Regions from separate parts of the Homo sapiens genome. Here region 1 is linked to region 2. Evidence: fine-mapped expression QTL. Tissue or cell type: whole blood. Region 2 holds a variant in brackets; the other region holds the start of a gene. All regions are shown on one strand. Distances are between the middles of the regions.

What was found. PIP is the estimated chance that this variant, and not a neighbour inherited with it, causes the effect.
Region 1: RALY starts here. The variant in region 2 is fine-mapped to the expression of RALY in whole blood (INTERVAL, PIP 0.93).

What each region holds. Positions count from the first base shown.
Region 1 is chr20:33,990,736-33,998,834 of GRCh38, reverse strand. RALY (RALY heterogeneous nuclear ribonucleoprotein) reads right to left here and starts at 4,924. Exons shown (of 10, transcript NM_016732.3): 1 at 4,704-4,924. RALY-AS1 (RALY antisense RNA 1) reads left to right here and starts at 4,468. Exons shown (of 2, transcript NR_109886.1): 1 at 4,468-4,630; 2 at 5,930-6,347. RefSeq lists enhancers at 1-44, 5,481-6,007, 5,944-6,023 and silencers at 4,204-4,533, 4,754-4,803, 4,864-4,993, 5,174-5,283, 5,454-5,703.
Region 2 is chr20:34,833,274-34,841,377 of GRCh38, reverse strand. It overlaps the pseudogene HMGB3P1. Among named protein-coding and RNA genes, the nearest start is that of NCOA6, 12 kb to the right of the region's middle. The variant C/G (reference allele first, on the strand shown) is at 3,369.

The sequences.
Region 1 (8,099 bases), 840 kb after region 2:
TTTTCTGCACACACTCTTGCACACGCTCTCCCACAACCTTCATTTGAAACACCATCACCTCTTGCCAACCTCCTAACTGGTCTCTCTGCCCACAGTGTTCTAGCTCTCCAGTCCGCTCCTGAACAGGCAGCCAGAGATATCCTTCCAAAATGCACATTGAATCATGGCCCCCTCACCTCCGGATGAAGTCCAAACTCCTCAACACAGGCAAGAAGGCCCTTTCCTGACTTGGCCTCTGCTCTGCCTACCTTGAAAGTCTCCTGTCTGGCCATATCCACCCACCTCAAGCATTATGCTCCACCCAAGAATCCTGAGAAATTTGTTTAGCTCTCTTGGCCCGTTTCCTTCAACTACAGAATGGGAATAGTAACAGTACGTACTTTCGGGATGGTCTTAACCTATTATCACCATTTCTGAACTTACTGTTCCTTCTACCTAGAACAGTCTTATCTCTGCCTCTTCCCTGACTCCCCAGATCTCTTCTTTTCCTGGCTTATGTCTGTTCTCTTGAGGGCTAGGCTTAACCAACTTCTCCTCCTAAAAAGCCTTCCCTGACCTTCCAATGCTGGGTTAGGCATCATTTTTCTGTGCTCTCCTGGTGTCTGTCCCTGTGACAACACTTCTCACACTGCCTGTTTCCTTGCCTATCTTTCCCACTACGCTATACAAACCCAAATCCCTAAGCGTAGCACCAGGTCTAACAGAGGCTCATTAATTCTTCAGTGAATGAAAAACTTTCCAAAAATGAGGTATCCAAAGAAAGACAATCTCAACAAGTAACCAACTCAAATGTCAGCCAGGTGGCTGGTCTAAATGACTGTAAGGTCCCTCAACTACAAGATTCTATTCAATAAATTCAACACACTGACCTCATGGGTCATATTTGTTTGAACTTTAATATGCAGGCAATGTTGGGGCCATCAGATTTTTAAGGAGAGTGTGACATGACCAGACACATGATCATGTGTTTGTTACCCTATTAACCATCTCTGAGACACTGCCTCTCCCAACCCCCAGTTGTTATCAGGACAATATTCCAACCATCTTCATAAACATGAAGAGCCCACTCCCCTAAATGGACCAACACAGAAAACGGTCAAAGGGCATTTTGAAAGGCTATATGCAGCATCTAACTCCATCTTAACCAACTGCAAGCAGTGAGTATCCATAAACATCCTCCAAGAACCCAAAAGCTAATCCCTCCTGTGTGCCTCTATGGAAAAAGGGGGAAGAAAGAGGGAACATTTCATAAAGGTGATCTACTTAATCATTCTGAGTAGTTTTGATCCAAGCTGCTGTCACTGCACTGTTATTCCTGATAACTGCAGCCCAATATCCCCAAACCCTGGACTGTCAGAAGGGCAGGTGCAAACAAGGTGAGGGTGGGGAGTTATCTCGGTTCTATTTTAAGGGTGTAATAGCCTGGCGTGGTGGCTCATGCCTGTAATCCCAGCACTTTGGAAGGCCAAGACAGGAGGATCACCTGAGGTTCAGGAGTTCGAAGCCAGCCTGGCCAACGTGGTGAAACCCTATCTGTACTAAAAATACAAAAATTACCCAGGCGTGATGGTGCATGCCTGTAGTCCCAGCTACTCGGGAGGCTGAGGCAAGAGATCCCTTGAACCCAGGAGGTTGAGGTTGCAGGGAGCCAAGATCGTGCCACCGCAATCCAGCCTGGGCGACGGAGTGAGACTCCGTCTCCAAAAAAAACAGGGTATAAGGTCTCTTCTGCAGATACTGGGGGGCCAGCAGAGATTCAAAACAGGCTTCAGTGATACAGAACATCAACCTAAGGGGGAGAAAAGTAGGTCTTACTCAGAGAGGCCTGGGTTCCTGCCCTGGAGCTGCATGCCACATCTCTGCTGCAGGTGAGGACTAATAATTTTGCATTTACAATGCACTCTGAGACTAAAGAAGACACTAAGTGTGCCAGCTTTGCAGGCACAAAAGGACAAATATTGCATGATTCCACTTACATGAGGTTCCTAGAGTAGTCAAATTCACAGAAAGTAGAACGATAGTTTTCAGGGGCTGGAGGGAGGAGGGAAGGGGGAGTTAGTTTAATGGGTACAGAATTTCAGTTGGGGAAGATAATGGACAGTGATGATGGTTGCATAACCATGCGAATGTATTTAATGTCACATAAATGTACACTTTGAAACGGTTAAATGGTAAATTTTATGTTATATATATTTTACCACAATTTTTTTTTTAAAAAAAGCATGCCAGCTTTAAGGTTATACTGTCTGCAGTCTGAATACTGCCATGGCCACTTACCAGTTACATGACCCTGAGGCAGGTAATGTAACCTCTCTAAGCCTGTTTCTTCTATAAAACAGGGATAATAATAGTACTTAATTCATAGGTTGCTCTAAGAATTAGTAATATAGTCCATAAAGTCCTCAGTCCATTGACTGGTGGTACACGTTAAGTACTTAATAAATTTAGCTATTATTACTACCACTATAAAGCACTTTCATAGCCATTTTCTTAACAATCCCCACAACAACCCTATGAGTTTACAGATAAGGAAACTGAGGCTCAGAGAGCCACAATGAGTGGCTCAGTTTATGATGTCAAATCAAATCCTCTGCTCCAGAGAGGTGTCTTGTCCTCACTACTTACTCATTCTGTCATCTAAGGCAAGTGCTATGCTGTGTCTCCATTCCCTCACAGTAAAAAAAGAGACATAAACCAAGCTCTGCAAACTACCTCACAGAAATGGATTAGAAATTAAATCAGATAATGGTTATGGAAGAGTATATAAGCCATAAACACATAAAACCGAAGTGGTGACTTACGAGAACTAGTACACCTGTGCTTAAACCTGGCCTCCTCTTAATACTAACCATAAGGCACAGAAAGGGGTGGGGACTATAAAACTTCCTTGGGATTTCCAATTACTCAGGATTCCTGACCTTAAGACCTGAATAAGTGGTTTCGTGCCCTTTTAAGAAGTGGCAAGGTATGGGAGAAATAAAAATATTACTGGATTAGGAGGAAGAAGACTGGAAATTTTAGTTCTCACTCTGACACTAAGGCAGTCTGAATTCAGACAACTTACTTCCCCTTTCCAAGGTTCAGTTAACAGGGAAGCGGGGAAAGGCAGATATGAAAAAGTTGGACCAGATGGTAAGACCCCTTTCAGCTCCCACATAGGACTCGTAAATCCAGAATCCTGGCCAGGCACCACAGACGTACCAGACTCCAAAGAACTAATGTGAACATCAAGAGACTCCTCAAGACCTGGCCCAGAAACTCCCTTGCCTGATTTTTAGACACTCCCTCCAACCGGATCACATTGAAAAACTGGAACATTTGCCAAAGTTAATTTTAGTTCACTTTAACCACTCTGGGCCTTATCTGAAAATAGGAGTAATATTTGTTTGAAGGCAGATGACTTGAGCTACTCCCCCTAACCCCCATCAAACTAGGATCGATAAATCTAAACACAGAGAACCTGCAAGGTCTGGGAGGAGGAACACACCACACACAAACTAAAGGGTGGATCCCACCGTTTACAGTCTCAAAGCTTCCTTGAGCCAAAACCCCAGGGAATTTGAGTTGTGTCTGAGACCTGGAGTCTGCATCCATCAACTTCTAACTGCCGCAACACTAGCAAGGAATTCATCCAAACCTTTCCCTTTAGAACTATGGTAACCCCAGAATGGGATTTCATCCACAGTATAGTGGACAACGGCCCAGAAGTCAGGGAAAACCCAGAGTTATGCCCCTAATTAAATGGTGTGACCCAAGGCTAGGTAAAAATACCCTCTGCACTAAGAGATGATACATGCTCACACCAGGAAATATTAATAAATAATAGGTACTGGCACCACTCCTTTGCACTTCTGTGGCTACTGTGACTTGGAGAAAATTACTTGACCCCTCTGCGCCTTAATTTCTGCTTTTGTAAATGAGGATAAACCAGAAGGCCGTTGTGAACATTAAATGAAATAAGGCTTGGGAAGTTCCTGGGTGAAGTCTCATTAAATGTTCCCTGTCGGTGTTAAACACTTCTTTCACATATTAGTTCCCTCCCTGAATCCACGAACACCCCGCAAAGCGAGTTTCCTTCTTTCCCCCCATGTCACCGAGAGGCAAACTAAGACTCGGCCGCCAAGGAGGCTGAGTGAAACGCGGATACGGCCCCAGTTCGAGGGCCCGTTGTTGTTTCTCTCCGAGCCCAAGGCGTGCAAAGAGCCCAGAAGAGGCGGGAGCCGAGGCAGGACAAGCTCTGCGCGCCTCCGGGAGCCCGTAGACCCAGTCCGGGTTAGGAGAGCCGGAAGCAGCCGCGGCCGGGCCCGCCTGCGGCCTCCCCGGAGCAGCCTCCGTTCCCCTCCCTCCGCCCCTCGCCGGGCGGGGCGGGGCACGAGCACAAAAGACTCCAACTTCCGAGCGGGCGCGGGCCCACCCAGCCAACTACTGGCCCAGACTTGGCCCGCGGAGAGAGCAGACAGGGAACGCCGGGAGCAGGACCGGGCGCGGAGGGCTGGGGCCGGGGACCCGGGGCGGCGGGTCCGAGTGGGAGAAAGGAGCGGCGGAGGGGGCCTAGAGTTACTCGGGCTCCCGGGACTCCCCGAAGGGCAGAAATAAGTTTCTAAAAATAGGCAGCGGCCTGCCGGAAGAAGTGAGTGAACGGAAAGGCACAAAGCACACACCCTCCCCGCACCCCTAAGGAGACGCCCGCAGTCCCCACTCACCCGCGCCGAGAGGTCTGGAGGAAGCCGCGCGGCTGGGAAGGAGGCGGTACTGCCGCACTCGGGGACGTAAGGGAGGGAGGAAAAGGGCGGCTGCGGCGGGAAGAGGCTGGGCACACGCGCGGGAGTCGTCGTCGTCGCCGTCGCCGCCGCTACCGCCCCCTCAGCTTCTCTGGGTTCCGCTGCCCCGAGCTGGCGCCGCTCGCGCGCCCCGCCGCACTGACAGCGGCGCGAGCCCCGCAACCGCGAGCCCTGCCCTCGGCCGGCACCACTGAGGCGCGCGGGGGTGGGGGCACCCGGAGCGGCTCCCCGCAGCTCGGCTCCGCCCGCCGCTCCGGCCCTGGTTCCGGGCTCTCCTCCTTCTCTGTCTCCTGGGAAGGACACGGTGACACGAGCACGAGGAGTCTGCAGCCCCGCCCAGAAACAGCCCGGCTTCCCAGGCGCATGGGCTCTCCCCACCCTCTCAGCCTGGCTTTGGAAAGGTCCAGAGCTTCGGCGGGGACGGGAGGAAGGCGGGGCCAGGGTGGGGCCTGAAAGGGAGGAGGGACTGAGACGCGGCTTGGGGAGGCGGGGCTGGGGCGGGAAGAGGGCAGCTTGCACAGGTTTGGAGCCGAAGTAGGGGCGGAGCTAAGATGGTGATGAGGCCCTGGGAAGAGGGTCGCCGGACCAGTGGGGAAGGCCGTGCAGGAGATGGAGAGCCGGGAACCAGGACAGCGCTTGAAAGGAGATGCTGTGGGCGGGGCTAAATGGAGAATCGCCCAGAGGGCGGAGCCACGGGTGGAGGGAGGCGGGGCTGAAGAGAAGCTTAGAGTGGGAGGAAGATGGAAGCGGGCCTGAAGGAGGCGGGCCCGGAAGCAGGGAGGGGAGGAGGGGCCCCGGGGGTGGCTACTCTGGGCGGGTGCCGGAAGGAGGCGTGCCCCAAGGAAGGACTGAGGGGTGGTGCTTGAGGTGGGCGGGGCCTGGAGATGGCGCTCAAATCTGCAGGCTGTGGGCGGTGCAGGAGGGATCCGGAAGAGACGAGGCAGGAAGAAACTCCTGGTCCTTTCGCTTTTAAGGAACGTGCCACCTAGACAAGGTGAGGGTCGCTCTTCGCTGCCTAATCTGGGACTGGGCGGAGAGGCCGCGCTAAGGGTGATCTCCGAAAAAGATGCAGGAGATGTTTTATAACTTGATCCAGGTGCTAGTCCTCTCTCCTACACATTTCTCCTGTCGGGATTTCTCACTTTCAGTGTTCCAGCCTCCGGTGAACCAGTCTTCCTAGTGAGAGCACGAGAAGCCCGTTGTCCTTCATTCCTCAGCTATGGATTTCCCTGAAAGTTGAGAACTGACCATATTCTCGATGCCTCCTCCGACCTGTGATTTCATGACTCACATCGCTTCCCCAGAACCTGCTTAACAGACGGGATTCCTGAGAATGGAGCAGAGTTTGAATTCAGAGTCCTGGCTTTGCCATACCAGCAGTTATAATTGTCCTTCTGTTGTTTGATGACCTCCCTGCCCTGCTTCAAAAGGAAGAGAAATCAAAGAGTTGACGACCCTGAGCGCAAGGCCTGGGACGTTCTTCCCCAAACTCGCTTTAATATCACCTTCTCAAAAGAACTCTTCCCTGAACACCTTGTCTCAAGATGTTCTCTAGTTTGTCTTCTTGTTCTGTCATTTATTTGTCTGTTCATTGTTTGTGTGTTTTTTGAGGCGGAGTCTAGCTCTGTCGCCTAGGCTGGAGTGCAGTGGCACGATCTCGGCTCTCTGCAACCTCTGCCTCCTGGGTTCAAAGCGATTCTTGTACCTCAGCCTCCCAAGTAGCTGGGATTACAGGCGTGTACCACCATGCCCGGCTAATTTTTGTATTTTCAGTGGATACGGGGTTTCATCATGTTGGCCAAGCTGGGCTCTAACTCCTGACCTCAGGGGATCTGCATTTGAGGATAAACCCTGTCTTGGCTCCTCCCTGACGGGGGTGAGAAGTAGCCCTCCTGGAATTGCCTCAAAGCCCCCGGTTATCACCAGTGTTCTCGGTTGCAAATTACGAAACATAAATAAACTCAGACTAACAGATGCAGCAAAGGAATTTATCAGGAAGGAATGGGGAGCTCCCAGAACTGATGGGAAGGCTGGAGAACCAGGCTCAGAAAATGCACTGAAGTGGTGAGCGCAGAGGCTTGAATGTTGCCAGGACTCTCCTCCCAGTCCTTTATCTCTTCTCTCTGTATGCGAGCTTTTCTCCTCAAGGCTAGGCACCTGGCTGCAGCAGCGCTCACCACTCACAACTCTCACCCGTTCCACCGGAGAGAGACTGAGGATTTCTGCTTCTGGTCTGAAGGACAAAATTTTAGGGAAAAACTTTGATTGGTCCAACATAGGTAAGTCCCCGTCCCTAGACCAATCATCTATGGGTGGAAAACCAGGTGCTGTGACTGGCCCAACTTAAGCCAGGTGCCATTCTCTAACCAATACTGTGAATAAGGAAGTGGGACGTACAGGGAGATGGCAGCCCCATCGGAACCATATGGTCAGAGAAAGATGCATTTCCCAAAAGATGGAGTTCATGCTCTGGGGCAGATTGAATAATAGATTTTCACTACACCTGCCCCAGAGTTACCCCCAACCAATACATTACTTACTGCCCAACTCTCATCATTCCTTCTCTGCTCAAAACCCTTCAATGGGCTGGGCGCGGTAACTCACGCCTGTAATCCCAGTACTTTGGGAGACCGAGGTGGGGGGGATTACTTGAGGTCAGGAGTTCAAGACCGGCCTGGGCAACATGGTGAAACCCCATCTCTACTAAAAATATAAAAATTAACCGGGCGTGGTGGCAGGCACCTGTAATCCCAGCTACTCAGGAGGCTGAGGTGGGGTAATCGCTTGAACCTGGGAGGTGGAGGTTGCAGTGAGCCGAGATCATGCCACTGCACTCCAGCCTGAGACACAGAGAGAGACTCCGCCTCAAAAACAGAAAAACAAAAAACAACCTTCAATAGCCTCCCATTGCCATGTCATCAGCATGGATCAAAAACTCAAATGTCATGCCGGGCACAGTGGCTCATTCCTTTAATCCCAGAATTCTGGGAGGCTGAGGCAGGAGGATTGCTTGAACCCAGGAGTTTGAGACCAGCTTGGGCAACATAGTGAGACCCTGTCTCTACAAAAAAAAAAATTTTAATTAGCTGGCATGGTAGCATGTGCCTGTACTTCCAGCTACTTGGGAGGCTGAGGCCAGAGGATCACTTGAGCCCAGGAGGCCAAGGCTACAGTGAGACATGCTCACACCACTGCATCCAGCCTAGGCAACAGAGTGAGACCCTTCTCAAAACAAATAACAACAACAGCAAACCCTCAGGTGTCTACAGGGGCTAGAAAGAAGGTTAGGCATGAGACAATAGGGAGTGGAGAGCACTG
Region 2 (8,104 bases):
AAATATCATAAACTGGGTAGATTGGAGCAGAGATTAGTGAAATAGAGAATAGAAAAACAATAGAGAAAATCAATAAAACCAAATCCTGGCTCTTTGAAAAAATCAACAAAATTGACAAACCTGTCCCAGATTGATCAAGAAAAAAAGAAGACTCGAAATTACTAGAATCAGAAATTAAAGATGGGACAGTACTTACAATCTTACAGAAATAAAAAAGGATCACAAAGAAATACTATGAACAACTGTATGTTAATAAATCAGATAACTTAGATGAAACATAAAATTTCCTAGAAAGACACATACCAAAACTGACTCAAGAAGAAATAGACAATCTGAGGAGATACATAACAAATAAAGAGATTAGTAATATATACTAAAAAGCAAACTACTTACAAAGAAAAGCCCAGGTCTCAGACGGCCTCACTAGTGATTTCTACAAAACATTGAAAAAAATTAATACCAATTCTATAAAAAAAGCTTTCAATAAATAGAAGAGGAAGAAACGCTTTCTAGTTTATTCTGTGAGGCTAGTTTTACCTTGAAATTAAAATCCAACAAAATAAGACCTAATAAGAAAACTACAGACCAATATTCTTTTATGAACATGGATGTAACATACTCAACAAAATACTAGCCAACAACATATAAAAAGAAGTATACACTGCCTCAGTGGGATACATTCCAGGAATTCAAGCTTGGTTTACTTTCAAAAATCAAGTATTGCATTATATTTTTTTGGTAGAATAAAAAACAACACATGATCATCTCAATAGATGCAGAAAAGGCATCTGACAAAATCCTACCACCCCTTCATGATAACAAACAAACAAAAAACACTCAGCAAACCAGGAATAGAAGGGAACTTCTTCAACATGATAAAAGGCAAATATAAAAAACCCTCAGTTAACATCATACTTAATAGTTAAAGATTGGATGCTTTCCCACTAAGATTAGAGCATACCCATTCTTGCTACTTCTATTCAATATTGTATTGGATGTTCTAGTCAGGGCAATTAGGCAAGATACAGAAGTAAAAGGCCTCCAGATTGGAAAGTAAAAAGTAAAACTATTTTTATTTGCAGATGGCATGATCTTGTATACAAAAAATCCTAAGAAATCAATGAAAACAATGACAGCTAACAAAGGAGTTCAGCAAGATTGCTAATACAAGATCAGTATAAAGTTTCTGTACACTTGCAATAAACAACCTGTAAATGAAATTAAGAAAACAATTCTGGCCAGGCACAGTGGCTCCCACCTGGAATTGCAACACTTTGGGAGACTGAGGCTGGAGGATTGCTGGAGCCTAGGAGTTGGAGACCAGCCTGGGCAACATGGTGAAACTTTGTCTCTACAAAAATTAACTGACAGTGGTGGTGTGTGCCTATAGTCCCAGCTCCTCGGGAGGCTGAGGTGGGAGAATAGCTTGAGGCCAGAAGGTGGATTGATGGCGCCGCTGCACTCCAGCCTAGGTGATAGAGTGAGACCCTTAAAAAAAAAAAAAGAAAAGAAAAAGAAAAAAGAAAGAAAACAATTCCATTTACTGAAGCATCAGAAAGAATAAAATACTTAGGAATAAATTTTATAAAAGAAGTATAAAAATTAAAACTATAAAACATTGTCGAAAGAAATGAAAGAAGACCTAAATAAATGTAAAGACATTCTGTGTTTATGAATCGAAAGATTTAATTTTGTTAAGATGACAATACTTCCCAATTGATCTACAGATTCAATGCAATCTGTATGGAAATTCCAGCAGCACTTTATTGCAGAAATGAATATGGATGATCCTAAAATTCATATGGAATTAATTGCAAGGGACTCAGAATAGCCAAAACAATCTTGAAAAAGAACAATGTTGGAGGACACACATTTCCCGATTTTAAAACTTACTACAAAGTAATCAAAACAGTGTGGTAGGTATAAGGATAAACATATCAATGGAACATAATTGATAGTCCAGAAATAAATCAATATATCTATGGCCAATTGATCTCAACTAGGGTGCCAAGATCATTCAATGAAGAAGGAATATTCTCTTTAACATATTCACATACACAAAATGAAGTTTGAACCTTGCCTCACACCACATACAAAAAGTAACTCAAAATGGATCAAAGACACAAATATAAGAGCTAAAACTATAAAACTCTTAGAAGGAAACATAGGGGTAAATCCTCATACCTTGGATTTGGCAAATGGTTTCTTAGATGTGGCACCGAAAGCACAGCAACAAAAGCAAACATAGATAATTGGATGTCATTGAAATTAAAAAGTTTTGTACATAAAAGGACAATCTTGAGTGAAAAGACAGTCCAAAAAATGTGAAAAGTATTTGCAATCTTATATCTGATCTGAGTACTTTATATAGTACCCAGAATATATTAAAAACACTTCAACAACATAAAGACAAACAACTCAATTAAAATATGGGCAAAGGACTTCAATAGACATTTCTTGGCAGGGTTCAGTGGCTCATGCCTGTAATCCCAATACTTTAGGAGGCCAAGGTGGGCAGATCGCTTGAGTCCAGGAGTTCAAGACAAGCCTGGGCAAAATGGTGAAACCCTGTATATACCAAAAATATAAAAAATTAGCTGGGTGCTGTGGCACGTGCCTGTAGTCCCAGCTACTGGGGAGGCTGAGGCAGGAAGATCCCTTGAACCCAGGAGATCGAGGCTGCACTGAGTTGAGATCGTGCCATTGTACTCCAGCCTGGGTGACAGGAGTGAAACCCTGCCTCAAAACAAAACAAAACAAAAAGGACACTTTTTTTTTTTTTCTGAGACAGAGTCTCACTCTGTCACCCAGGATGGAGTGCAGTGGCACCATCTCGGCTCACTGCAACCTCCACCTCCCAGGCTCAAGAGATTCTCCCACCTCAGCCCCCTGAGTAGCTGGGACTACAGGTGCATGTCACCACACCCAGCTAATTTTTGTATTTTTTGTAGAGATGGGGTTTTGCCATGCAGCCTAGGCTGGTCTGGAACTCTTGGACTCAAGCAATCCTCCCATCTTGGCCTCCCAAAGTGCTGGGATTACAGGTGTAAGTCACTGTGCCTGGGCTTCAACAGACATTTCTTCAAAGATAAGTCTATGATAAGATGCTGAATATCATAATCACTAGGGAAATGTAGATTAAAACAGGTCAAAATCACCATGAGATACCACTTCACAACAATTAGACTGGCCATAAATATTATTTTTATTTGTTTATTTACTTAAATGTTATTTTTTATCTTTTATTTAAATAGAGATGGAGTCTTACTATGTGGCTCAGGTTGGTCTCAAACTCCTGGCCTCAAGCAATCCTCCTGCCTCAGCCTCCCAAAGTGTTGGGATTACAGGTGTGAGCCACTGTGCGCCCA[C/G]AACAATAATTTTTTAAAAAGGAAATAACAAATGTTGCTCAGGATGTGAAAAAGTGGAATCTTCATACGTTGTTGGTGGAAATGTAAAATGGTACAGCAGCTATGGAAAACAGTTTGGCATTTCTTTAATAAGACAAACCAAATTACCATACGACCCAGCAATACCATTCCCAGGCATAAACCCCAAATCACTGAAAACAGGTGTTCAAAGAAAAACTTGTACATGAATGTTCATAGCATCACTATTCACAATACCAAAAGGTAAAAAACAACCCAAATGTCCATCAACAGACAAAAAGATAACAAAATGTGGTATATTCACATAATAATACATATTATGTTATTCAGCTATGAAAAAGAATAAAGTACTGATACTGATACATGCTACAATATGGATGAACCTTGAAAACATTGTGCCAAGTGAGAGAAGCCAAAAGGTCACATATTGTATGATTCCATTTATATGAAGTATCCATAATAGGCAAACTGACAGAGACAAAGTCAATTAGTGATTCCTTAGGGCTGAGGGAATGGGGGGGTTGGGGAGAGGGAGATACCTAAAGATTATAGAGTTTCTTCTGAGGCAATGAAAATGTTCTAAAATTGACTGTGGTGATGGTTGCACATATCTGTGACTACACTAAATACCATAGAATTATACTTTTTTTTTTTTTTTTTTTGAGACAGGGTCTGGCTTTGTAGCCCAGGCTGGAGCACAATAGTGCAGTCTTGGCTCACTGCAAACTCCGCCTCCTGGGCTCAAGTGATCCTCCCACCTCAGTCTCCACAATAGCTGGGACTGCAGGTATAAAGCACCACGTCCGGCTAATTTTTGTATTTTGGGTAGAAATGGGGTTTCACCATGTCACCCAGCCTGGTCTCGAACTCCTGGACATATGTGAGCGAACCGATTCAACCTCCCAAAGTGCTGGGATCATAGGCTTGAGCCACACACCCGGCTGAATAATACACTTTAAATGAGTAAATTGTATAGTATGTCAATTATATCTCAAAAGCTGTTTTTTTGTTTTGTTTTGGAAAATTGTTTTTTGTTTGTTTTTGATTTTTGTTTTGAGACAGAGTTTCACTCTTGTCACCCAGGCTGGAATGGAATGGCGGGATCTCTGCTAACTGTTACCTCCACCTCCCAGGTTCAAGCAATTCTCCTCCCTCAATCTCCCGAGTAGCTGGGATTATAGGCACCCGCCACCACGCCCAGCTAATTTTTGTATTTTTAGTAGAGATGGGGTTTCACCATGTTGGCCAGGCTGGTCTCAAACTCCTGACCTCAGGTGATCCACCCGCCTCAGCCTCCAAAGGTGCTTGAATTACAAGCATGAGCCACCGTGCCCAGCCTGTCAATAAAACTGTTTTAAAAAGACATAGGATTTGGTAATATGAGCTAAGAGCTGAATGCAAACTCTATGACCCAGCAATCCTAGTCCTAGGTTTTTATCCAGCAAAAAATTGTACACATGTTCATCCAAAGACATGCACAAGAATGTTCATAGTAGTAAAATTTAAAATAACTCCGGCCCGGGTGCGGTGGCTCACGCCTGTAATCCCAGCACTTTGGGAGGCCGAGGTGGGCGGATCACTTGAGGTCGGGAGTTTGAGACCAGCCTGACCACCATGGAGAAACCCTGTCTCTACTAAAAATATAAAAAATTAGCCGGGCATGGTGGTGGGCACCTGTGATCCCAGCTACTCAGGAGGCTGAGGTAGGAGAATCGTTTGAACCCAGGAGGTAGAGGTTGCAGTGAGCCGAGATCACGCCATTGCATTCCAGCCTGGGCAACAAGAGCGAAACTCTGTCTCAAAACAAAACAAAAAAAGCTCTGGCCAGGCGTGATGGCTCACGCCTGTAATCCTAGCACTTTGGGAGGCCGAGGCAGGCAGATTGCCTGAGCTCAGGAGTTCGAGACCAGCCTGGGCAACACAGTGAAACCCTGTCTCTACTAAAAAATACAAAAGAAATTAACCGGGCATGGTGGCGTGCACCTGTAGTCCTAGCTACTCGGGAGGCTGAGGCCAGAGAATTGCTTGAACCAGGGATGCGAAGGTTGCAGTGAGCCGAGATCGCACTACTGCACCCCAGCCTGGGTGACAGAGCAAGAGTCCATCTCTAAAAAAAATAAATAAAATAAAATAAAATAGCTCCTAAGTGGAAACCCACATGCTCATTAACAGTAGAATGGATAAATTATGGTGTATTCAAACAATAAAATGCTGGCCAGGTGTGGTGGCTCACATCTGTAATCCCAGCACTCTGGGTGGCAGAGGTGGGAGGATCACTTGAGCCCAGGAGTTTGAGACCAACCTGGGCAACATGGTGAAACCCCGTCTCTACAAAAAATACAAAAATTAGCATGGTGTAGTGGCATGCACCTGTGGTCCTAGCTACTAGGGAGGCTGAGGCAGAAGGATTACTTGAGCCTGGGAGGTCAAGGCTGCAGTGACCTGTGATCCCACCACTGCACTCCAACCTGGGTGACAGAGCAAGACTCTGTCTCAAAAAAATAAAAAATAAATAATGAAATGCTACCCAGCAATGAAAATGAACATGCTACAACTACATGCAACAATGTAGATGAATCTGTAAGTTTAACTCCTGGTGAGACTAATCTATGGAGTTAGAAGTTAAAATACTGTTTAACCTTGGGGGCTGTGGGTAATGACTGGAAGGGGCTTCTGTGGGGCTGAATGTTCTATTTCTTGATTTGGGTGTTTGTTAGACATGTGTGTTGGCTTTGTGGAAATTCAACAGGCTTTACACTTACGATTTCTGTACTTTTATGTCTTTATATTATACTCTAATAAAAAGCTTTAAAATTTCAGAATATTTTTGAAAACAGTTTTTTTTTTCTCCCCCACCCCCACCTTTTTGTGTATGTATGGTCACTTGATATTCTTCCACTTTTTAAAATTGTGTAATTATTAGTCTATTTCTTCTATTTTTTCAATGATTTTTTTCCTGAAGAGCAAGCCATGGCTTGCCCATAGTAAGCCCCCACCCCACCACCGCTTTTTTTTTTTTTTTTTTGAGATAGAGTCTCACTCTGTCATCCAGGCTGGAGTGCAGTGGTGCAGTCTCAGCTCACTGCAACCTCTGCTTCCCAGGCTCAAGTGATCCTCCCATCTCAGCTTCCCATGGAGCTGGGACTACAGGCATGATGCACCACCACGATTGGCTAATTTCTGTATTTTTTTGTAGAGACGGGGTTTTGCCATGTTGCCCTGGCTGGTCCCTAATTCCTGGGCTGACACAATCCACCTACCTCCACCTCCGAAAGTGCTGGGATTACAGGCATGAGCCACTGCGCCTCGCCATAGCATGTCTTTATGCAAAGCACAAGTGACCCCCTCCTCAAGGCATTTTATTTCCATATATCTGAAAATTGTTACAACGAACAGATTCTGAAATAACAAGGCATTTTACTGCCATCTACTGGTAAATTATCATAATAAATTTGCAAATTATAATGTCATGTGAATGGTGTCCACTTAAAAGTGATATCCTTCAAGACTAGTGAACAATACAGTCAGGATGGCTAGAAGTGACCCCAGGAAACTAAGGGGCAAGATGTCTGCTTTTGCCTTCTTTGTGCAGACGTGCAGAGAAGAGCATAAGAAAAATCCAGAGGTCCCTGTCAATTTTGCAGAATTTTCCAAAAAGTGCTCTGAGAGGTGGAAGACAATGTCTGGGAAAGAGAAGTCTAGGCTGGGCACGGCGGCTTACGCCTGTAATCTCAGCACTTTGGGAGGGTGAGTTGGGTGGATCACCTGAGGTAAGGAGTTTGAGACCAGCCTGGCCAACATGGTGAAACCTCGTCTCTACTAAAAATACAAAAAACTAGCCGGGCGTGTTGGTGGGCGCCTGTAATCCCAGCTACTGGGGAGGCTGAGGCAGGAGAATGGCTTGAACCCAGGAGGCAGAGGTTGCGGTGAGCTGAGATCGTGCCACTGCACTCCAGCCTGGGCAATAAGAGCAAAACTCCATCTCAGAAAAAAAAAAAGAGAGAGAGAGTCTAAATTCGATTAAATGGCAAAGGCGGATAAAGTGCACTGTGATAGAGAAATGAAGGATTATGGACCAGCTAAGGGAGGCAAGAACGATCCTAATGCCCCCAAAAGGCCACTGTCTGGATTCTTCCTGTTCTGTTCAGAATTCTGCCCCAAGATCAAATCCACAAACCCTGGCATCTCTATTGGAGACGTGGCAAAAAAGCTGGGTGAGATGTGGAATAACTTAAATGACAGTGAAAAGCAGCCTTATGTCACTAAGGTGGCAAAGCTGAAGAAGTATGAGAAGGATGTTGCTGACTATAAGTCGAAAGGAAAGTTGGACGGCACAAAAGGTCCTGCTAAAGTTGCCTGGGAAAAGATGGAAGAAGAAGATGAAGAAGATGGGGAGGAAGAGAAGGAGGATGAATAAATAAACTGTTTGCCTATAAAAAAAAAAGGTGATATCCTTCTGCAGGGCAAAATTCATCCAACTAAATGTGGTAAGTTTGTCATTTGGCACTGTTGTGACGAACCCTGCAGACAGTAAAATGTTGACACTTTCTAGATGGTTTTGTTCTTTCTTTTTTCCCCTGTTTTATTATTGTTTTTCTTAAAGACATCATTGAAGTATTCACTGTCAGTCTTATCACTGCAGAGCTTGAGCCTGTTTGGACACACATGAAAGTAGAAGTCCAATAAATACAAATCAAATTATCAAAGAACAATTGATT